Regions from separate parts of the Homo sapiens genome. Here all the other regions are linked to region 3. Evidence: fine-mapped expression QTL. A gene starts in region 3. Each other region holds a variant in brackets. All regions are shown on one strand. Distances are between the middles of the regions. Region 1 overlaps LOC107986081 (a long non-coding RNA gene). Region 2 overlaps ANO10 (anoctamin 10). Region 3 holds the start of ANO10 (anoctamin 10).

Region 1 (8,186 bases), 280 kb before region 3:
ACCCTAGAGTTACATTGCCCATTACATTTCATTATGATATTTACTAGCTGTGGCCTTGGGCAGTGTTTTAATCTCTCTGTGCCTCAGTTTCTCTTATTTTCAAAATAATGATAATATCACCCACATCACTGGTGCCTGTGCAGATTAAATGAGTTAGTCTATTAATGGATTAACCCTACCTGTAACTCAGCCACAGTTAGTTGTTACAACCGTTGGTATTGTCCATCTCTAAAATGATTGTATAATTTCTGAGGCTTATAGGGGTTGGGTGATTCATGCATCATTCTGCTGATAATTAGGGGCAGAGAATCTAGGCTCCCTGTCTAAAACTGCTTCCATTGAGGAAAGATACAGTTATCTGGAAAATCCTATGAGATTTCATGGGAAACATCAAGGGCAATACCTCCCTATTGTAGTATGATTACAAAATTGCTCAGGTTGCAAGTCCTCCAAAAAGGGGAGCTTCCTTGATCTCTGCAGTCAAATTTACTTCTAATTACATGAATTCAGAGCACCATTACTAAGCACGTCTAGCAGACATGAAAGATTAACAGTGTATTATTGGTTAGTGTAGGCTCACTGCTGTAACAAACAAGCCCCAGCATTTTTGTGGCTCAATACAATTGAAGGTCATTTCTCTGCCAAGTAAAGTCCAGACTAGGTATTCCTACTGGGTGGGCAGCTTCCCTCCACATGGTGACTGGGGATCCATGCTCCTGCTCCTTCCATCTTGAACTCTGAAAGTGGCACAAACACTTCCACTCATATTCTGTTGGCTGTAGTTGTCACATGGACATGGTGAACTGCAAGGGAACCTGGGGGAATGTGGTCCTGTGGTATTCCCAGGGAAAAGAGGATAGTTTTGATGACCAGCTAGTTAGTTTCTGCTACAGAAAGTGACATAATTAGAAGAATGTAAACTCAGACCAGATTTCATTTGCCAGCATACCCTTAGGAGAGACCCTTCCATCATCACCCCTTAGATTCAATGAACTGCTCAGCCAGGAAAAAACAAGGTTTGCCATCTGCCCCAAGATCACAAGTGAACTCTGTTGCCCAGGCTGGAGTGCAGTGGCACAATCTTGGCTCGCTGCAAGCTCTGCCTCCCAGGTTCATGCCATTCTCCTGCGTCAGCCTCCTGAGTAGCTGGGATTACAGGCACCCACCATGACGCTTGGCTAATTTTTTGTGTTTTTAGTAGAGACAGGGTTTCACTATATAGCCAGGATGGTCTCAATCTCCTGACCTGGTGATCCACCCGCCTTGGCCTCCCAAAGTGCTGGGATTACAGGCGTGAGCCACTGCGCCCAGCCCAGAAATGTATTTCTCACAGCTCTGGAAGCTGGGAAGTCCAAGATCAAGGTGCCAGCAGACTTGGTGTCCGGTGAGGGCCTGCTTCCTGGTCCCCAGGTGGCCATCTTCTAGCTGTAGCCTCATATGGCAACAGGGGTGAGGGAGTTCTCTGAAGTTTCTTTTATAAGGGCACTAATCTCATTTATGAAGGCCTCATCCTCAAGACCTAATCACATAACAAAGGCCCTACCTCCTAATACCATCATGTTGGGTGTTAGGATTTCAACACATGAATTTAAGGAAGGCACAAACATTCAGTCTATAACACCTTCCCACCTTTGCTACCTTAATATCCTCTGCTCTCTGGCCTTCCCTTCACCCCCTCATTCTTCCTGATGCCAGAACACAAACATATCATCTTCTCTAAATCCTTGGTGATTGTTAGTTCACTTGTGATCTTGGGGCAGATGGCAAACCTTGTTTTTCCCTGGCTGAGCAGTTCATTGAATCTAAGGGGTGATGATGGAAGGGTCTCTCCTAAGGGTATGCTGGCAAATGAAATCTGGTCTGAGTTTACATTCTTCTAATTATGTCACTTTCTGTAGCAGAAACTAACTAGCTGGTCATCAAAACTATCCTCTTTTCCCTGGGAATACCACAGGACCACATTCCCCCAGGTTCCCTTGCAGTTCTCCATGTCCATGTGACAACTACAGCCAACAGAATATGAGTGGAAGTGTTTGTGCCACTTTCAGAGTTCAAGATGGAAGGAGCAGGAGCATGGATCCCCAGTCACCATGTGGAGGGAAGCTGCCCACCCAGTAGGAATACCTAGTCTGGACTTTACTTGGCAGAGAAATGACCTCAAAAAAAAAAAAAAAAAAAAAAGAAAGGAATTTCTGTGGTTTAAAAGCTGTCTGATCTACGGCACTTCGTTAAAGCAGTCTGAGCTGAAATAATACAGAAGGATAAGAGGTAAAATTGCTCTGAAATTTTAAAACATAATTTTTATTATGAAAAATTTTAAGCATAAAGTAGAAAAAAATAGTTTAATGTAAACATTTAATTTTAAAAGGTAAAAATCACATTTCATTATGGAAAATCATTAAAAGAAATAAAAGGAAAATATTTGTAATTCAACCACCTTATTAAAGCCAGGTATTGCTTTGGTGTATTTCCATCTAGTCCTTTTTTTTTTTTTTTTGAGGGGAGGGGCATAAGTTTTTATATAGAGTTGTAAAGAAGAGAAATGGTTATAATCAGAGACTTGGTGGTATGTCCTTATGGGAAGGGGGAGAGGAGAGGGGATGGATTCTTCTGCATGGTTTTACACAGAATCCCTTGCTCTGTGTTCCTCACTTTGGGGGCTAACACACATTTCTGATTCTGTAGCAGGTAGGGAAGCAGGAGGTGGGAGAGGAGTGTGGAGAAACATAATTTAGATCAGTTATACATTCAGTTTGTTAGCAGCTTTGGCAAAAAGGTTCCTGGGAAGAGCAAGTGGAAATGCCTTACCAAAATGAAGTTTAAAAGGTATCTCTAGGCCGGGCATGGTGGCTCAACCCTGTAATCCCAGCACTTTGGGAGGCCGAGGCAGGTGGATCACCTGAGGTCAGGAGTTCAAGACCAGCCTGGCCAACATGGTGAAACCCCGTTTCTACTAAAAACACAAAAATTAGCAGGGCGTGGTGGCGCTCGCCTGCAATCCCAGCTACTCAGGAGGCTGAGGCAGGAGAATCATTTGAACCCGGGAGACAGAGGTTGCAGTAAGCCAAGATTGTGCCACTGCACTCTAGCCTGGGCAACAAGGAGCGAAACTCTGTCTTAAATAAATAAATAAATAAATAAATAAAGGTATCTCTAACACATTCACGCTTGGTATTGAACCCCTGTGCTAATTAAGACTGTAGCGGCAATAGGGAAGGCCAACAAATCAGTGGTTTCCAGAGATTGGGAGTTTATTTCTCACCTTCTGTGCCCTTCAAGTGGGGAAGATGCTAGTCTCCTAGAGGTAACCAGGACTGCACCTCGGCTGCCCGCAGTGGTCACCTGCTCACCAGTGCACTCTGATGCCTGCTTCCCTCTCCTACCTCATTTCCTATAGTGCCCATGAGAATGTGCCTAGCAGTCCTGCCTCCAATTAGAGGGAGTATTGGTAACCAAGGGCCTGGCAATTGCTGCACTAGGAAGCCGAAGGACATGCTTCCCAAGGGCTGCTCCCTGTCAGTGACTGAGCACAGCAGGGACACTCGAATGCAGGTTGTTCTAGGAGATGTGGGGCTCCTCTAACACTGGCTTTGGCTCCAGGGTTCCATGATGGCTTCGCTGACCCTTCCATAGACAGCCTGGCAGTCTAAGACATTCTTTCCCCACCTCTTTCACTCAGGGTCAGACTTGGCTGGAGGTATGAGAGATCTCTGAGCCTCATGTGGCTCCCTCCCCATTCTCCCTCACGTTGATAGTTACCCTAATAAAATCCTTTCATGTGTAATCCCACCTTGGCAACTACTTCTCAGAAGACTCACACTAACACATTTCCCCCACTCTCCTACTAATACTTCCTGGAATCACCTCCCAGACAAACAACTTGTACTCAAGTTTTTGTGTTAGTATCTCTTTCTGGGGAAGCCAGCCTAAAATAAAGGACACTCCAGGGACACTGCACACACCCCTTGCACGAATTACCTTGCAGCAGAATAGGGTTAGGTGGCCACACTGAACAAGGGAGGCTGGGGCATGTAGTCTCCTTCTATGATGGACCATGCACGGCAGAATGGCTATCAGGAAGCCTGGTGGCAGCTGTGGCTATTCCTCCTCCCTCTAGCCTTCAAGGTCAACTTTCTGGAGCAGAATGTGTGGAGTCCTTTGTTAAATCTGTGCTGATGTAAACTGATGGAAACTAACCCAAATCTAACTTCATATTATACTGATGTGCTCCAAGGAAAAGTGAAAAGTGAGTGAAGTTATGGTCTAAACCTAGCCCATCTCTTGAGCCATGTTCCCATTTTTTCCTTTTTAGACCCTCTCCAGAACGTCAGCTGCCCAGAGCCCCAGCTTCCCAAAGCCCCTATTCCAGTGCCTCACCCAAGATATTGATTCATCAGCCTGACTTTCTTCCTCTTGCCTTAAATTGTACCTGTTCCATTACCCAAGATTCTGTACATCACTAATGTGATGAGTTAATTTAACATAAAGACAATAACGTTGGCTAAGGCTTGACTGTGGCAGCAGCCAGATGAGCACATTTGGCCTCTAACCAGAACCTGGAATGCCTTACCCAGAGGATGGAATGGTAGTTTGCCTGTTGACTGTCATTGAGTCCTGGATAATCACATGCAAATGTTATCCATCTTAGGCTTTTTTTTTTTTTTTTTTTTTTTTTTTTTTACGATGCAGATAACAGAAGTCAAGGATCAGGCATGAATAAGCTACCCCACTAGTAAGGATCTTGAAACCCAGTAGCTGAGACTCCATAAGTTCTGTGAACTCAGTTTTCCTCTGGGTCATGTTCCTTAGGATATTTTTTTTCTGTCGTATTCAGGAAAGAAGCCTAGACTCCTTTGATTCAACACTAAACTGTTCACAGTAGTTATCCCTAGAATGAAATTGTAGCCGGGGAGACTGTGAAAGGGCTATTGCTTTTAATACTGTAAAAGGGCTACTACCTTTTAATGTTTCTATAGGGCTTGAATTTTTCATATCAAGCATGTACT[C/G]TTTTGGTAACTTTTGAAAATAATGTAATTTAGCTGCTATGATAAACCATTTGCCTTGCCCTGTGGCATGGACAAGAAACCTGTCCTATGCATTCCTGAGAAGATCTCTTCATTTTTGGTAAACAATGAAAAAATCCGGTCCTTAATGTCTCTTCTTTTTTCAGAATGCATTTGGATCCTTTCTGCTATTAGCTTTCTTAAACGTGATATGAATTGTCCTGCATCCCTGGTTTCTCTCTGTCCCATGAGTCAGCTGTTCAAATGTATTTTAAAACATTAATTTTTAAGTGAAATTAGAATACAGACCACACTTATTTATCCACAGTGCCTGGGTCTAGTGCCTGGTATAAAATCAACACTTTAAAATGTTTTGAAAAATGGCTGAGAACTCATATTAGTCAAGGGACTCCTAATGACCACGGAGTTGTTTCCATATGGCAGCCACTGCAGGTCTTCGGGGGTGGGAGGTGAGCCTTGAGTTCTTTAAAAGTCTTTCCCTGGGATGTCGACCCAGATACCAAATGCAGTTGGGAAGGGAAAGTGGTAGTCTGGCCAATGGTGTAAAATTAGGTGTAATATATGAGAATACAACTGCTTGTGTCCTACTTACCTAGTCATTGGGCAAGGCAGGTTAGGTCTGAAGGGGAAATTACTGGCCAGAATCTCAGCATTTTACTGCAAGCTTGAGAAACTGAAAACAAAGCAAAACAAAACATAATCAGTTTTTCCTTGTTGTGCTTGTTTTGACAATAATTTGTTTTGACAAACTGACACTCTTAAAGATGGCTTTTCTGATATTTTGTAAGGCCACTGCACTATCTGCCATTTAACATTTTAGAGTAACTTCCAAGTTTCACACCTCTTGAGCGCCTAGCCACTTTTTGCTAGCATTGCTTCATGTTGTGAGAGAAGAGACCACCTAATGTCCTGACGTGCAGTGGTGACAGTAGACACATTTAAGTCCAACCTTAGCCCTTCCAGTTCTGGTCCTGTGACCTTAAGTCTCTGAGCCTCAGTTTTCTAATCTGTCAAATGGTATTAATGATGCTAGCTGTCTCTAGAGCTGTTTTAGGGATTACAGGAGGTAATCTTTTTTTTTAAGCACAGGGGCTGGTGCATAGTAAAGACTCAATAAATGATAACCATTGTTATCATCATCAACATTAAAAGCTTATCAAAGAGGGCCAGAAGGACTTGGGATATGGATCCAGGAAATCTACCACTTTCAGGCCAAGTAATAATCATATTAATAAAACCAGTAGAGTTCTGCTGGGTCATTCTTCTGGGACCTCATGTTCTGTTCTTTGCAGTATTGGGAAGTGGGCAAGGAAGAGGGGCGTGGAGAATGGAGGTGAGGAAGGGGGCTGGGAAGGCAGAGGGAAAATGAGGGCTGCTGATGGTTGGTGGTTCAGAGGCAGCAAAGCCAGCAGTGAGGAAATGGGAATTACCAGGCACTGAGGAGCCCTAGTGCCAGCTCTTTGCTGACATAATTAATGAGGCTGTTGTGCCAAAAACGAGGCATGTTGTTAATATACAGACCTGTTGGGAGCACAAGGGAAATGCAAATAAAAATTTTGCCAAAAGAGGAGTGGGGTCAAATCAGCTCCAGAGGGCGACCACGTTGTCTATAAAACTCTAGTATATGGGAGGCCAGGAGACAGTATGAAGAAAAAGAGAGGAATTGATTTCAAACAGGATCAGTAGCTACTAAATAGTAGACTTTTAATATTCGTGTTTGCTGATTTTTCCTTTTGTGTCTATTTCTTTCAAAGTCTGTTCAGTTGGTGAAATTCACTTGATAATGAAGACTACTTAGGTTGGTGCAGAAGTAATTTAATTTTTTAAAAAAAGGCAAAAACTGCAATTACTTTTGCACCAACCAAATAAAATTTCAATGGAGTTTTAGCATTCAGGACTTTAATATACATTCCATAAGATACACAAGAAAAAAACCTGAAAGATTATTTTTATTTTTACTTTAAAGAGCTCTGGGCTGCTGAGAGGAAGCAGTCTTGAACCTATATAAAATTGTGATTTTTGTGCCTGTTTCCATCATAAAAACCAAAAATGATTATTGGTTTCTTATGTGTGTTCTCAATGGCGAATTCAATTTTTTTTCCCAAAGAGCCTTGTTGAATCATCCGAGTGAGACGTGGACCAAGGTGAAGGCGCCTGCGGGTGGCTTTCCTGTCCAGGGGTAGGCAGGAAATAGAGTCCCGGGCTGCCACTGCTGTCCCCTATGGGTGTGGCTGGGGACTGGCTGGGAAGAAAGCCAGCATCATTTGATGCAGTTGCTCTGGAAGGTCGCTGAGCACGGGCCCTGGCACCCACCTTCCCAAACACAAGCCCGGCCCTCGGCCCAGCGGAGAGTCTCGTACAGGGGACAGGGATGGCGATGCTGGTCCCACGGGAGCCAGGCCGGTGTCCCCAGGGGATGAGGGGTGGGGGGCAATACAAGGAGGTTACTTTGGTCTGTTGCTCCCGCTTTGTTAACCCATCCCTATGTCCTATCCCCTTCTTCCCTGGCTTTGCCCAAGCCGGGTAACGAGAAAGCGCTAGGAACCAAGTGGCTGTTGGACGTGGCCGACTGCGGAAAGGCCTGCTTTATTTCGTCGCAGTTCATTTATTTTCCTTTTCGTTCTGCCGGCTGCCACGTGTTTGGTAAGTTAGAGCACGAAACACTTTAAGATGGGCCTGTGGGGCCGGAGCAGAGCCGCAGAGCTGTGCAGGCGCGCGTGTGCACGTGCGCGCCTGTATGCCGCGTGGGCGTGCGCGCGTGCACGTGGGCCGTGTGCGCGCGCACATTGTTTCTGTCTCCAGCGGTTGGGAGCGCGCTGGCGTTGCCTGTGGGCTTGGGGCCCCTGCGCCGGGGCGGAGCGGGCAGCGAGGCTGGCGGGAGATGCTGGGCTGCTCTGGAGAGCGCGCAACCGGCGTGCTCACCCTGTTAAGGCTCCGCTCTTCGCTGTGCCCAGATCCACACAGGTAGCCTTCAACCGCCGCCCAGGGAAGTCAGTGCTCTTATTAGCTTCAATTTCCGGACGAGGAAGTGAGGCACAGAGAGGTTAAGGAGCCCAGCTATTAGGAGCCTTTGAACTCAGACAGTCTGGCTCCAGAATCTGCATCTTAACTCCATTACGCGTTATTTTTTAAACGCAGGCCCGCCCCCCCCCGCCCCCCTGG
Region 2 (8,186 bases), 44 kb after region 3:
TCAGATTAGAAGAGATGAAAAGGATTGAAAATACTCTGTATCAACAAGAATGAAAAGAACTGAACATTTTCTTACCTTCACTGTAGTGGAAGGACAGATTGGTAAATTTTTTCTGGAGACAATTTTATAATATGTATCAAATATTAAAATACTATGCCCTTGGACCTAGCAGTTCCCCCTCTAAGTATATTTACTAAGGAAATAGTAGACAGGTAGGGAAAGGTATTTGTACAAATTTTAGCATTATTTACAATAGCAAAAGGAAACATATTTTTAAATAGAAGATTAGTTGAATTACAGCATTTCATACAAGGGAATATTATGGTATTGTTAAAAGGACATTTCATATTCTATTTTTACTGGCATCAAAAAATATTCACTGTATACTACTACATGAGAAAAGATTATGAAACAACATAGTGTGTATAAAATGATTTTATTTTTGTTCTTAAAATATATATGGATATATTTTTATGTCTGGTTATACACTATATTGCTTTTTACAGTGGTTATTTTCAAGGGGAAAGAGAGACTAACGGGCCTCTCATAGTCTTAATTTTTACACTTCTATATGGTTTAAAATTTTATATTTACTTTTTTGCTTCATAGTCAAAGAGAATAGTAAAGATATTTACATTCTGAAAAATGAAAGAATATACAGGTTTGGAGTAGGCAGTATGACATTGACCTTTGCGTTGTACTCCTCTGTGGAGTGTCCTTATAGTATTTGCTGAAGCGTATCATGCACAATCTCCAGTCCATTTCATGCAGTTTGGCACATTTTCCCTGTGCAGTGAGAAGATTGCTCACGTCTGGCATCGTGATTCAGGTGTTTCCACTGCATGACAGTGAAGCCCTGAAGAAGCTTGAGGACACCTGGTACACTCGGTTTGCTTTGAAGTATCAGCCCATAGGTATGTGTCAGTACTTGTTCTCTTAAAGAAGAGGAAGGCCTCTGATGAAAAGTTACGATCTAGCAGTGGAGTCAGCTCCCTTGGGCAGATATTTAGTGCTCTACTGGGCAGGGATCACCAGCTACATGTGGGAAAACATTTTGATGGAGGGAATAAGATAGGTTAGATGACCCCTTTTTTCTTTTTTTAAACTTTTTTTTTTTTTTTTTTGAGATAGGGTCTCACTATGTCACAGGCTGGAGTGCAGTGGGATGATCACAGCTTACTGCAGCCTTGACCTTCCAGACTTAATCAATCCTCCCATCTCAGCCTTCTGAGTAGCTGAGATCACAGGCGTGCACCACCATCCCCAGCTAATTTTTTGTAAAGACGGGGTTTTGCCGTGTTGCTCAGGCTGATCTTGAACTCATGCTCAAGCGATCCTTGTGCCTTGGGCTCCCAAAGTGTTGGGATTATGGGTCTGAGCTATTGTGCCTTGCATTTTTTGATGTTCTAATACTACCATAGATCAGTGGAATCACAGGCTTTTACTACCCTTCACCAACAACACAGACAGTTCAGAGTGGCCTTCCTGAATGTGTGTCAGAGTTGGAACCAAACAAGTTTTTTTGTTTTTGTTTTAGTTTTTGTTTTGAGATGGAGTTTCACTCTTGTTGCCCAGGCTAGAGTGCAATGGTACAATCTCACCTCACTGCAACCTCCACCTCCCAGGTTGAAGCAATTCTCCTGCCTCAGCCTCCCATGTAGCTGGGATTACAGGCATGTGCCACCATGCCTGGCTAATTTTTTGTATTTTTGGTAGAGATGGGGTTTCACCATGTTGGCCAGGCTAGTTTCGAACTCCTGACCTTAGGTGATCCACCCACCTTGGCCTCCCAAAGTGCTGGAATTACAGGTGTGAGCCACCGTGCCCAGCCTCAGACAAGTTTTAATAAGAATTTAGTTTGACTATAAATGACTATTTTGTATTTGAAAATTTCTATTTTTGAGGAGCCAGTTATTTAGAATGAAACAAGCTATGCCACACTTAGGGCAACTAGCAGGCCAAACATCTTTTGAGGTGATTTGTAATTACCTTGGCATGCATTACTGGATCTGTCAATTTTCTTTGAATATAATTATAAGAATAATTATTAATTTATTTGGTATGTGCTGGACATTATTTAAAATTTTGTCAATATGGATGTTCAAATATTTTAGTCTGGTTATGTTTTTTAAGCTGGTAGATTTCACCTTTGCATTACTATCATTTTTTTTTCTTTAAAGGACATTTTCCTTTTGGTTTTGTTTAATGGTATCCTAAAATAATTTTCTTTCTGTTTTCTATTTCTGAAAACAACTATTATATAATGTTTTACCAAACAAAAATTGTTGTAAGATCAAACCCTAAATTACATTTTGAATTTTGTTTATATTCTCTGAAAGGAAAAGTTTTGTTATTGTTAATTCCAGGTCATACAATAGTCATTTTATATTACACTTAACAACTGTTTAACTTTGTTTTGGCATTTAAGTGGCAGGAAATTTGAATATTGCCTCTAGGACTTGTAAAGTGACTATCTGTTAGCTACTCCTTTTTTTTTTTTTTTTTTTTTTTTTTTTTGAGATGGAGTCTTGCTCTGTGGCCCATGCCGGAGTGCAATGGTGTGATCTCAGTTCACTGCAATCTCCACTTCCCAGGTTCAAGTGATTTTCCTGCCTCAGCCTCCTGAGTAGCTGGGACTACAGGTACACACCACCATGCCCGGCTAATTTTTGTATTTTTGGTAGAGACGGGGTTTCCCCATGTTGGCCAGGCTGGTCTTGAACTCCTGACCTCAGGTGATTCGCCCGCCTTGGCCTCCCAAAGTGCTGGGATTATAGGTGTGAGCCACTGCTCCCGGCCTCTGTTAGCTACTTCTTAGAAAGTAAGGGGAGAAAGTGAGTCGATGGTGAAGGCTAGGCATGGGGTGGTAGTGGATTTGGGGTCGCTGGGGACTGAGACTGGTGATAGCATCTGGGACATAGGTGGATCTTGAGGCTCCTTGAGATTGAAAGGGGAAGGTCATCTGCTGTGGAGCCAAGTGTCATGAGCATCTTTTAAAAAGAAATGATCGGATGTTCTTTAACCTGATTTAAATTTGAGGTGAAATCATACCTACTGTTTTCATTTGCTCTTGGGTTAGGGGGAAGAATTAAGGATAGGAGAAAATAGCCTATCTCAGTTCATTCTAACTCATTTTTGTAGACTGCTCAAATTATCTTAAGAAAAATATGTTAACTGTGTATTATTAACTAAGAAATAATAACACCAACTGTCACACTTCCTCTCACCCCCTGCTTCCCACCCTGGTCCTGGTACAAGATGCTCTTATGATCCAAGCACTCCCCATGTGGATGAGGCTGGCAAAGGATGCAGTGTTGGTGACCCCTCTAGAGTCATTTAGCTTGTGTTGAGTTCACAGAACATTAGCAGTCATGTTGCTTGGACCTTCTTCTGCCCAGTGCATATATGAAAGTGTTGATAAATGTGTTCCATGGCTGTTCTGGAAGTTTATGTGTAGAATCCTGTTTTGTGCTTTTGAATAATTTTTCTTTAGTGTATTGAAAAATCTTCCATAACACATTGATGAAAGTTTATGTCTCTGGGTAGGGAAGAGCAGAATTTTGTGGATGGGGAGTCTTCGTCAAAAAGAACATTTATAACACTAAGTGGGAGAAAAGTGGGGAGCATAAATTAAACCCCCAAATTAATGTTCAGTGGACATGGCTGAACTTAAATTAGGACCTTGGAGATTTTGGGTAAGCTACAAGATGAGTTTTCCTTTGGGAAGAAGGTATCCATCAGGTGAGGGGAAACAGAGTCCAGGCACCTGGCGGAGCACACCCCCCAGCTAAGGCCTGGCCCCTAACCTGGGGGAAATGTTGGACCTGCCATGCAGACAAGCAGGGTCTTTATACTGCATGGAGGGTAGATTTACCACCACACGCTGTTTGGGAAGTGAGGGTTGAATGATCCCCACTTAACTAAAAAATGAATAAGCGTACTTGAAATGATTTTTTAAAGTGTTTGGTAGTCTATACTTATGTTCTTTCTTTGTTTCCACTATAGACAGTATTCGTGGCTACTTTGGGGAAACAATTGCTCTGTACTTTGGATTTTTGGAGTATTTCACTTTTGCATTAATCCCCATGGCTGTCATTGGGTTACCTTACTACTTGTTTGTGTGGGAAGACTATGACAAGTACGTGATCTTTGCCTCGTTCAACCTCATCTGGTCCACGGTGATTCTGGAACTGTGGAAGCGTGGCTGTGCCAACATGACCTACAGGTGGGGGACACTGCTCATGAAGAGAAAGTTTGAGGAGCCCCGGCCAGGATTTCATGGTGTCTTGGGTATCAATTCCATCACTGGGAAGGAGGAGCCTCTGTACCCCAGCTACAAGAGACAGTTGCGCATTTACCTGGTCTCCCTGCCATTCGTGTGCCTCTGCCTCTATTTCTCACTGTATGTCATGATGATTTACTTCGACATGGAGGTTTGGGCCTTGGGTCTACATGAGAACAGCGGGTCTGAGTGGACCAGTGTCCTGTTGTATGTGCCCAGCATCATCTATGCCATTGTGATTGAGATCATGAATCGTCTCTATCGATATGCTGCCGAGTTTTTAACTTCATGGGGTAAGACTTGAGGCTTTATATTCACGTCTTACTTGCCTGTAAGAAATGTTGCCTAGATCATGGGATTCACATAGCTGCTACCTTGCAGAGAAAATAGATGTTGCTCTTGGCTCATTATAGAGACATAAGGAAAAATTTATCAGCTTTGTGAACACTGATGATCTCCATGCCATGGTTATCGTAACTCTCATTTATTATGTGTTAATTACTATGTTCTAGGTGCCCTGCTAAGCACTTTATTCACAGTATCTCACCATCACCTTCTCAAGGGTACCGTGAAGTAGAAGTTATTTCACCCTTTTATGGATAAAGATAACTGATGCTTAATGAGGTTCAGACAGCAAATAGTGGAGCTAGACTAATTCAGACCTATCTTTCCAAAGCTTGTGCTCCTAATACATAACATTGTGTTTCATGCC[G/A]AGGGTAAAATAGATTGAAATTGTTTCACTGGCTAGAGCCACAGAAGAAAGAAAAAAAAAATGTCTTCATGATACTCAGCTGAATCAACTATGACCAGTTTCCTAAAATGGAGTGTCTAGTTGGTGTGAGGCACTGAGGACTGCTGTTGAGTTCATTGAAGGCAGGTGTTTATGGATGTATCTGTGGTAAAAAAGGAACTTGGTTATAAGTTGAAAATGGTCTTGATAGGCCATTGACTCTTTATTTATTCATTCAAACCAATGAACAAATTCGCTATATTATTCCCTAGGAAGAAGTCAAAGCCTTAACTTTATGGGACATAAATATGTTTTAGGGGCCAGACGCAGTGGCTCACGCCTGGAATCCCAGCACTTTGGGAGGCTGAGGTGGGCAGATCACAAGTTCAGGAGTTCGAGACCAGCCTGGCCAATATGGTGAAACCCCGTCTCTACTAAAAATAAAAAAATTTAGCTGGGCGTGGTGGCACACGCCTGTAGTCCCAACTACTCAGGAGGCTGAGGCAGGAGAATCACTTGAATCCAGGAGGCAGAGGTTGCAGTGAGCCGAGATCGTGCCACTGCAGTCTAGTCTGGGCGACAGAGCAAGACTCCGTCTCACAAAAAAAAAAAGATGATTTAAATTATTTTTATTAGTTGTATGACAATATCAGCTGTCATTTATCAAGTACTTTCCTTGTGCTAATACTAGGCTAAAGTTTTATATTATTTCTGATCCTGAGAGTGACCCTGGGAGGAAGATGGTCAGCCTTGTTTTGAGGGAATAAGGCTGAGTATCAGGAGGTTAAGTAACTTACCCAAGGTTAGGCAGTGGCTGAGTAGCTGAGTTGGTGTTCAAATATAGGTCAGTCCAACACTCTATGTGTAAGATGACACTTCTCTTCAGAATCTTCCTTTTTGTCATTTTATCTTGCTGTTTTGGGATCTATGCAGTATTACCTTTTCTAGGTGAAGATAGAAATTTGAGTTTCCTTTCAAGTTAACCCTTGTAAGCCACATGAAACTTTACTTACAGAACTTTATTTACAGAAAACTTTATTTATTGCCCTCTTCTCTAGAGGTTACTATTATTAGTTTTCACTATTACTTCTTATACAGGGTCTTTGGGTGGCTGTCTGTAGGATTGTTTGCCAGCACTTCCCAAATTTCTTTGTAGCAGTAATTTAAAAAATAATTTCAGACTACAGTGCTATTGCAGTACCCTGAAAAATGTGTCCCTGTTTGATGCTCTTGGTGGTAAGGCATAGCTGTGATTGACAGCCTAGTACATTTACTGACTGAGGCTCTGATGTTGGACATCTCCGCCCTCAATGCAACTCACTTTACCTCATAACAGTGCTTTCGTATTGTTTTCTTACTGAGAAGTTACCTGTGTGTTTTAATGTTTTAGAGAATCACAGATTGGAATCTGCCTATCAGAACCATCTAATTCTGAAAGTTTTAGTGGTAAGTACAGCGTTTATGTACAAATCCATTTTATGAAACTGGTATATACTACATAATATATAGGAATACAAATATGAAGAGTTGCTTCTAATCTAAGATATCAATATATTTTGTGCAAATAGGCAAGGATTGATTAATAAATATGTGTACCTCTGTGTTCAGTAGCCTTATTACAAATGTGCATGTGATGTAAGACTTCAAAATATAGGAGTTAGTATTATAGCCAATTTCCAGTTATTTAAAAACTAGGCCAGGTGTGGTGGTTCATACCTGTAATCTCAGCACTTTGGAAGGCCTATGCTGGTGGATCAAGAGTTCGAGACCAGCCTGGCCAACATGGTGAAACCCTGTCTCTACTAAAAATAGAAAAATTAGCTGGCTATGATGACGCAGGCCTGTAATCCCAGCTACTTGGGAAGCTGAGGCAGGAGAATCGCTTGAACTCAGGAGGTGGAGGTTGCAGTGAGCCAAGATGGTACCATTGCACTCCAGCTTGGGTGACAGAGCGAGACTCTGTCTCAAAAAAAAAAAAAAGAAAGAAAGGAAACTAACGGGCCAGACACGGTAGCACATGCCTGTAATCCCAGCACTTTGGGAAGCTTGAGGCAGGTGGATCACTTGAGGCCGGGAGTTTGAGACCAGCCTGGCTAGCACAGTGAAAACCTGTCTCTACCATAAAATACAAAAAAAATTCACCGGGTATGGTGGCACCTGTAATCCCAGCTACTGGGGTGACTGAGGCAGGAGAATCGCTTGAACCCAGGAGGCGGGGGTTGCAGTGAGCCGAGATTGCACCACTGCACTCCAGCCTGGGTGACAGAGCGAGACCCTGTCTCAAAAAACAAAAACAACAACAATAACAACAAAACTAACCCACTTTTTAGATATGTTTCTATTCTTTTCCTTTTGGTGATTTCTTTGAATGTTTTGCTATTTAGCAATCCTTCCTGTCACCACAACCTGTTTAGTGATGGAATATTACATTAAAAAAAATTTTTTTTGTTAGATTTCCAAAGTTCAAAAGGTTCCCAGCATGTTTTGACAGGTGGGAGGAAAGAGACAGAGAGAAAGCAGTATGTAACCTGCTTGCTGTTTGTTAAAAGCTGACATGTCGTGCCTCTTTCTACCATTATTATAAATAATAAAGAAGTACCAGCTTGAAAACACCTCATTTATCGGGGGTTTACCTCAGTCATCTGTAACATAAGTGAGAATCAAGAAAGTTACCTGAAGAATCATCTGAACTTTCAACTGGAATTGATTTAACACAGTCCGTGTACTTTACTCCCAAGAGAAGGATGCAGGCCCTCTTTTAGAATCTCTGTTCTAGCTGTAGAAATCATTCTAAGAAGTTTATCTATCTGGTTTTTCGGTCCTTAAAAAATCAGAAATCACCATCATGAGGGTGTTTAGATTTCTGGAAGTAGGCAAACCTACAGAGAAAGAACAGGTAAGGAAATGAAAAGCTGTCATAAGAGATAAGAATTCAACAATTGGGCAATAGGAAAGGGAAAAGTAGCCCTACATATCCAAAAGGCTTCGAAGGCCTCCTTCACACCGTGAAATGGCTGATACTTAAAATGTTGGTGCTAAATCAGCTAGGAAGTTCTGTTCTGTGCCCTCTGTGTAAGAAAGTAAAGGAATATGGGATACATTAAAAAGTTCATTCGAAAAGGTTATATAACAGGAGGAGCTTTTTCCCTCAGAGGTAAAAACATTGTTTGTCTT
Region 3 (8,186 bases):
AATAGGGAATTGTCAACCAGACACTATCAGCAAAATGTCCGAGAGAAGCCGGACCATGTAGCCACAGGACCAGGAAAAAAGTCTGCTGCAAGCTAGAGAAAGTGGTGGAAACTGCTGATTCCTTTTTTTCTCTCCCTCCGTTTCCCTGAAGCCATTCCCTGTCTGGGAGCTGCCCTGCAGTGGTATGGTGACACAGTCACCTGAGAGAAAACCTGTCCTTCTGGACAGAGGAGTTGGGAAAAGGGACTCTTGGAAGCCAGAGAGAACATGGAGGAAATACCCAAAGAGAGACAAGTGGAGAAAGGAATCCCTAATTCTGTGTAATTGTTTGACATGCAGTCATAGGTAATTGATACAGTAGTTCTCCTTAGCCACAGTTTCTCTTTCCATGGTTTCAATTACCTTCAGTCAACTGAGGTCAGAAAACATTGCATGGAAAATTCCAGAAATAAACATTGCATAAGTTTTAAATTGTGTGCCATTCTGAGTATCGTGATGAAATCTCCGCCTGTCCTACTCCATCCCTCCTGCGATGTGAATCATCTCTTTGTCTGGTGTGTCCATACTGTAGGTCCTTGTATTAGTCCATTCTCATATTGCTATAAAGAAATAACTGAGACTGGGTAATTTATAAAGCAAAGAGGTTTAATTGGCTCTGGTTTTTCAGGCTGTACAGGAAGCATGATGCTGGCATCTGCTTGGCTTCTGGGAAGGCCTCAGGAAACTTAAAATCATGGCAGACAGCAAAGGGGGAGCAGGCATATCACATGGCGAGAGCAGGAGCAACAGAGAGAGAGCAAGATGCCACACACTTTTAAACAGCCAGATCTTGTGAAAAGTCTCTCACTATTTCGAGGACAGCACCAAGGGGATGGTGCTAAACCATTCATGAGAAATCTACCCCCATGATCCAATCACCTTGCACCAGGCCCCACCCCCAATACTGGAGATTACAATTCAGCATGAGATTTAAGTGAGGACACAGATCCAAACTATATCAATGCTACATACCTTTTGGTCACTTAGCAGCCATCTAGGCTATCAGGTCGAAAAAACATAATATATACAGGGTTCAGTACTATCTGTGGTTTCAGGCATCCAGTGGGGGTATTGAAATGTGGCTAAGGGGGACTACTATATAGGGATCTATGTCATTAACTCAGGTTTGCCATTTATGCTGTCCAACAATTTGCTATACTTAACAGAAAGTTTTAATTTGTTAATTGTGGAGATGAAATAAGATTATACAAGAGAAAATGACTTTTATATTTCCATTCATTTTTCTTCCTAATTCCTCCAGCCACATAAATATAAGAAAATGAAATTATATGGAGGATGGCCGTGCGTTCTAGGATGAGAAGATAAGAAGAGTACAATTTAAAAACAAAAGTCTAAGGAGTAATTCATGTCTAAACTTATTGAAGTTCATAAATAATTTGTCCTGATTTTCAGAAGAAAGAGAGAACTTCTGAACATAACCACACAGGACCTACAAAAAGATAGCTGCACAAAAACTGGTTAATAATGTTGTGAGCTGCCATGATAGCATCGGAGGACTAGAAAGAATGACAAACTGCTCCTACCAAGTAACGAGTCTTCTGCTCCTTTCTTTTAGTTTCCCTGCCTCCTGCCTGGAACCTGGAAGACCCAGAGAAGGGTGGGGAGTAAAGAACAGACCAGCCTTCTCCGCACTGCAGTTTGTTGAGGCATTGATCTGGCCAAAGCTGGATGTATGGAGGCAGAAAGTGTTCATTCATTTTTTAAATTTTTCATTTCAGAATTATTGCTTGTCTGCTATGGACCTAACACTGTTCTAAACATTGGGGCTGGTAATCCTCCATTATCTGTGGGAGATACATTCCAAGATCCACAGTGGATGCTTGAAACTGAGGATAGTATAAAACTCTATGTATACTATGTTTTTTCCTACACATACATACATACTATGATAAAGTTTCATTTATAAATTAGGTACAGTAAGGGATTAACAACAATGAATAATAATAAAATAGAACAATTATAAAAATAGACTGTAATAAAAGGTGAATATGGTCTCTCTCTCTCTCTCCAAATATCTTATTGTTCTGGCCTCACCTATTTTCAGACTGTGGTAGACCCTGGGTAACTAAAAACACTTAAAGCCGGCAGGGCGCGGTGGCTCACGCCTGTAATCCCAGCACTTTGGGAAACCGAGGCAGGCGGATCACCTGAGGTCAGGAGTTCTAGACCAGCCTGGCCAACATAGTGAAACCCTGTCTCTACAAAAAATACAAAAATTAGCTGGGCATGATGGTGCGCGCCTGTAATCCCAGCTACTCAGGAGGCTGAGGCAGGAGAATCGCTTGAACCCGGGAGGCGGAGGTTGCAGTGAGCCGAGACTGCGCCACTGCACTCCAGCCTGGGTGACATTGCGAGGCTCTATCTCAAAACAACAACAACAAAAAGTCAAAAAGTGTGGTGGACAGAAGAAATAGGAGAGCAGGTAAGGAAATGGTGGGGTGAGGAGCAGATGAGAACAGGTATTAAGTAGGATGGTCAGAAAGGGCCTCAGGGAGAAAGTGAGAGCCCAGCAAACACTGAGGGAGGTGAGGAAGTGAGCCAAGCAGCCAACCGAGGGAAGAGCTTTCTGGGCAGAAGGAATGGCTGGGGCAGACTCTGAGCCTGGAGGTGGAAAGGTGTCTGGCGATTTCTAGGAGGAGCAAGGGTTTTGGGATTTGGCTGTGGTTGGATGTTAGGTTTTAATTATAAAAGGATCTGCGTTTTTCACAACTTGAAAGTGAGCTACAGTTAAAATGAGACTTGTTCTTATACCTGAAAGTGACCAGAAAATTAGGTTCTGGTCTTTAAGAGATGGAAGAGGGAAATGTGAAGGGGCGTATTCCTTTCCCCTGCCCCGACCGCTCGCGGTTGGAGAGCCCAGCCACATGCCGCCCCGGCTCGGAGTGACAGCCCAACCAGGCCTCTGCCTTCTCGGCCGCGCCTCTCCCGCTGCCGTCCGGATTTCGATGGGTGGTACAGTACGTTAGGCACGCCCCTCCCTTTCTCCCGGCCTGGTCTCCTGTTCCAGGCGACAGCCCAATGAGGGCTGCCTTTTTTTCTTCGGACCGGTTCCAGTCTAGGTTCTCGTCCACTACGATCGCCCAGTGAGGCCCCGCCCCTCCCACCGCAGTTCCGCCCCTCCCGGAGCTACCGCCCAGTGAGGCCCCGCCTCTCCCGCCGCGGCCCCGCCCCCCTGCGTGTGACCGCATCTAGGCCCCGCCGCGTCCGCCACGCCCAGCGCTCGGCGGCGCCCGCCCCACTGGCCTGGCCCGCCCCCCGCACCGAGCACTCTTTCGCCCGGCCTCCGGTTCTCGCCGGCTCTCGGACCCGCCTCCGAAGACGTGGAGCGCTGCGGCGGCTGGTGAGTCGGGGAGGGCACCTCGGACCCCCCAGCTGTCCGCAGCAGAGCCCGGCCCCTTGCAGCCACAGAGCCCCGGCCGCTGCAGGCTCCAGGAGCTCCGCCTGGTCGCCGCCCTGCGTTCCCGGGCCGCCTCCCGGTGCCAGCACCCCTGGGGATGGGAAGTGGGACCAGGATGGGCGCGGGGGCTGTGGGGGCAGGGACGAGTGAAGGTGTTGCGGGGAGCGGCGGTCGCAGGGGAGGGGAGAGGTTTGTGGAGGGGATTATGGGTCTGGGGCGAGGGTTTGAGTCCTGAGAGAAAGGCGGTGAGGCGGAAATTTGGGGCTGGTGAAGTCAGGATGGAGGATGTTGGGGGCCTCAGCGCTTTGGGGAAGGAGGCAGTGAGTGGGGTGGTCGGCGGAGCGGAGTGAAGGGTGGTTTTTAGAAGGGTCAGCTCGCGGGTCCCGGGGTTCTTGCTTCCCGGGCAGTCCGGGGATCAGGGCGGACTAGGCTGTCTCCAAGCAGGTTTGGCCGGAGCGGGCTTGCAGGATAATGCTCACATCGAGGTGACTGAGTTTCCAGGCTTTTGACTGGGACATACTGTACAGTTTAAATAATAGATACCTGTCTGGCTAGTGCCTGGGACACCTGAGAAACGTGGATGGAATGGGGTTCTCCCCTATAGGCAGCGTCTGATTTTGTGGGTGCCTTCACAGCACCAGCATTGGTGTGCGCTGCCTTCTGTAAAACCTTATATTCCAGCAGGACGGTGTATGGAGATCCCAGACTTAAAAAGTGCAGCTGAGGTTTATTCAGACTCAAGACACAGTTGTATCATATTGCCTTAAATCCTGCGGAGTTTAAATCTAATCCTGTGGGGTTTAAAGCGGTTAAATCCACTTTGTAGTGTCTACTTTTAATTTAAAGTCATACAAATCTAGAGGACTAGATGTTTTCTAAGGGCCCATTCTGCATGATAAACAGTTTAAAATTCGCTATGGAAAGTAAATCATCTGTTCTGAACAGCTGTTGCTGAAAGAATCGTAGAGTTGCAGATGAATGAAATTTGAAAGATCTAAAATAATGGAAGGGCATAGAAAAGTCTTGATAAATTGAAGTGTGTAAATGCACTTAAACCCACTGAAACTTTTTTCTTTTTGTTTTTTTTGAGACGGAGTCTTGCTCTGTCGCTCAGGCTGGAGTGCAGTGGCACAATGTCTGCTCACTGCAACCTCCGCCTCTCGGGTTCAAGCGATTCTCCCGAGTAGCTGGGATTATAGGCGCCTGCCACCATGCCCGGCTAATTTTTGTGTTTTTAGTAGAGATGGGGTTCCACCATGTTGGCCAGGCTGGTCTTGAACTCCTGACCTCAGGTAATCCTCCCACCTCGGCCTCCCAAAGTGCTGGGATTACAGACGTGAGCCACTGTGCTGGCCAACTTTTTTCATTGTAGACAACTTGGAAGACAGAGAAAATTATAAGGATGAAAATTAAAATCTGTAGTTTTGCCACATGTAATAACATTTTGATGCATTTCTTCCTAATTTTTGTATTTTTGTGTATATGAATGTACACAAAATTAGGGTAGTATTGTTACCTAATTGGGGTAATATTGTTATATTACTTCATACTTTTGCTTTTTCTTTCCACCTTACATTTTCTCACTTAGCATTTTTGTGGATCAAATTCTTCTTAAACATCTTTGAAAATGCTTGTATAATCATTCATCATGTGGATTCATTCTTTTTTTAAATATTAGAGTTTTAGTTATGTGCCTAGTACTGTGCTTGGAGGTGAAAAATCAGTGTTCCTCAAATGGATATATTTGTCATGGCTTGCATGAGAGCTGTACTAAGCCTTTTTCTCATCTGTCAGTTAAATTGTCTCTAGCCTTCTGTTTTTATAAGCAGTAAACCTTTGTTTTAATGGTTAAAAGCTCACAATAAATCTCATGTCATGTGTGAATCCAAAACTGTTATTTTTAATGTGTATGAGTTTTTGTGTGTATGTGTTAGGAAATTACGGAATTTTGGGTGGAAGAGGATTTTTTTTTTTTTTTTTTTTGGACAAGGTCTCACTCTGTTGCCCAAACTGCAGTGCGTGCAGTGGTGCAGTCACAGCTCACTGCAGCCTTGACCTCTGGGGTCAGGTGATCCTCCCATCTCAGCCTCCTGGGTAGCTGGGACTACAGGCGAGAGCTTCACCGTATCCAGCTAATTTTTTTTTTCTTTTTTTTTGTATTTATTGTAGAGACAGGGTTTCGCCATGTTGCCCAGGCTGGTCTTGAACTCCTGAGCTCAATAGATCCACCCCCCATGGACTCCCAAAGTGCTGGGATTACAAGCCTCAGCTACTGTGCCCAGCCCCTGGAAGAGGCTCTTTTTAAAAAGTTTCTTGTTTTGAAATAATTTTAGATTTACAAAAAGTTGCAAAAATAGTACAAATTTCCTTATGCCCTTCACCTAGCTTCCCCAGATGTGAACATCTTAGATGACGATGGTGCAATTGTTGAAACCAGAAAATTGACATTGATACAATTCTATTAGTGTAATCTACAGACCTTATTCAAATTTCACTAATTGTCCCACTAATATTTAGGATCCAGTCTGAGATCCTACACTGTATTTAGTCGTCATATGTCCTTAGCCTCTTTTAACCTGAGCATCCTCCTAAACAGGATGACCTGGTGCAGACCTGTAAAGTGAAGCAGGCCTGCTAGAAAGCACACACCTCCCCTGAATTCATATCCAAAACCTATCCCTTAGAAGGGGATATTTATCTTCCTTTTCTATATGAATAGACTACTGTTTGATTAAGATGTATAACCATAGCTGGGCACGGTGGCTCACGCCTGTAATCCCAGCACTTTGGGAGGCCGAGGCAGGCGGATCACGAGGTCAGGAGATCAAGACCATCTTGGCTAACACGGTGAAACCCCGTCTCCACTAAAAATACAAAAAAAAATTAGCCGAGCATGGTGGCGGATGCCTGTAGTTCCAGCTACTCGGGAGGCTGAGGCAGGAGAATGGCGTGAACCCGGGAGGCGGAGCTTGCAGTGAGCAGAGATTGCTCCACTGCACTCCAGCCTGGGCGACAGAGCGAGACTCTGCCTCAAAGAAAAAAAAAAAGACGTATAACTAATAAGGTGCCTTTTAATTACTTTTATATGCCATTTCTAAATCTTCTGGGAGTTACAGACTAGAAAGCATGATCTGAGTAATCCATGCTTATTATCTCTTTTATTAGTCTATGAATTGGCAGTGGGAATCTTTCAAAAACAGAGTGCCAGATGCTGACTCCAGTCCCTGGGTCTTTTGGAGGAAAGAGTAATGGCCTTTACTCTTTACCAAGTGTGATCAACTTGTCCCAGTTTTAAAGGTCTGTGTCTTGGGAACTTCTTCAGCCCAGGGCCACCTCACAGCCTCTAGAGCATTTCTACTGAGATGCCACAGTATATTTCTGACATTATTCTAGCCAAAACAAGCAAACTCTTGGCAGTATCTGGGGTAATGAGAGTAGATGGAGGCATGAGTGAGAGGAGGAAATATTCTTGTTTTCCTCACTGGTGCTTCCATGGCTAGACTCAGTTGAGTGATTGTGTGCAGAGGTTAGTGCAGCATCTAATCCGGCCTGGGCTGTTGTGGCAGGACTGTCTTCAGTATCCTGTGTCTCACCTCTCCTGTACCTTCCTGTGGAATCTTAAGGGCATGGAGTTCCCTCAGGGAGTGGTCCTCACCAGCTTCCCTAAGTTATCTGTGTTACTGAGAAACTGTTATAGTAAGGATGGGTGTATGCGGGGCTGATTCTCCATTCTCACGTCTGTCTACATCTGTGTAACTCCCCAAGGCAGCTGCCCTAGGTACAAGGAGGGAGGCTCCCACAATTGCTCTCACCATTAACTGCCTGCCTGTAGGTAAGTAGTGTCTCTGCATCTCGGGTCCTCTGGAGTTGGCCTGGCCCTCTTTTAGCCTGGCCATTAAAATTGCAACTTTTGTCCTATGGAGATTCCTCTCATCTTCCAGCTTGAGCAGTGCGGTCCTTCATTTTTCTCTTACTGAAGTGTTTCCTAATCTGCTTCATAACTGAGAATACTTTTCGTTCCTGTTTCTCTTTGAATCTGGAATAAGGTGATTCCTGAAGACAGTGTTATGCATTTCCTTCTTAACCTTTGAGTTTGTGATAATTCCATTGACTTTTTTTTTCTTTACCCAAATTCAGGAAAAGAATAATCCCCAGAATAAAGAATCCATTATTCTTTTCCTGATCCTTGTTAAAATAACTCCCCACTCTCCACACACTCCCCTGACCTCTCCATGGTGAACTCACAGTGTGTTTCTCTACATCTTGACCACAATGGTCAGACTTTACCTCTTGTGGGCCAGTGATCCAGTTGTTAATGTAAAAGCCACATGAATTTAACTTATTTGTAGGTCTCTCTTTGACCCTGTGTGCAATTCGACACATGATAAAGAACACAATTTGGGATCGCTGTCTCATAATCCCACGCCCCAGGGTCTGTGTGGAACCTGGCTGCTCTGTGCCTTATAATCAGCCTGGCTGCTGTCCTGGCTGAGAGTCCCGATCAAAGGAGGATATTGGCTGCAATACAGAAATCATTCTACCCTCTGGTGCCCAGGAAGTCTGTATGGTCAAATCATTGTTTTTAGATTGGCCCCAACTGGAACCATAAGGTTTGTGCTACACCTGCAGGAAGACTTAAAGCCTTCATGTCCCTGTCTGGTATTTTGTTTCCATTTTTTCATCTCGTATGCTTGGTAATGGTAGAGCAAGTTCCCATTAAGACCCTCTG

Evidence for each region. PIP is the estimated chance that this variant, and not a neighbour inherited with it, causes the effect.
Region 1: its variant is the best candidate, but not a certain one, in a credible set for the expression of ANO10 in whole blood (TOPMed, PIP 0.88).
Region 2: its variant is the best candidate, but not a certain one, in a credible set for the expression of ANO10 in whole blood (TOPMed, PIP 0.70).

The regions. Positions count from the first base shown.
Region 1 is chr3:43,894,036-43,902,221 of GRCh38, reverse strand. The region is part of intron 1 of LOC107986081 (a long non-coding RNA gene); the gene reads left to right. Among named protein-coding and RNA genes, the nearest start is that of ABHD5, 210 kb to the right of the region's middle. The variant C/G (reference allele first, on the strand shown) is at 5,007.
Region 2 is chr3:43,573,081-43,581,266 of GRCh38, reverse strand. ANO10 (anoctamin 10) reads left to right here. Exons shown (of 13, transcript NM_018075.5): 5 at 795-914; 6 at 4,006-4,575; 7 at 6,403-6,458. Among named protein-coding and RNA genes, the nearest start is that of ANO10, 45 kb to the left of the region's middle. The variant G/A (reference allele first, on the strand shown) is at 4,995.
Region 3 is chr3:43,617,123-43,625,308 of GRCh38, reverse strand. ANO10 (anoctamin 10) reads left to right here and starts at 3,298. Exons shown (of 13, transcript NM_018075.5): 1 at 3,298-3,400. RefSeq lists enhancers at 1,724-2,376, 2,377-3,029 and a silencer at 3,085-3,584.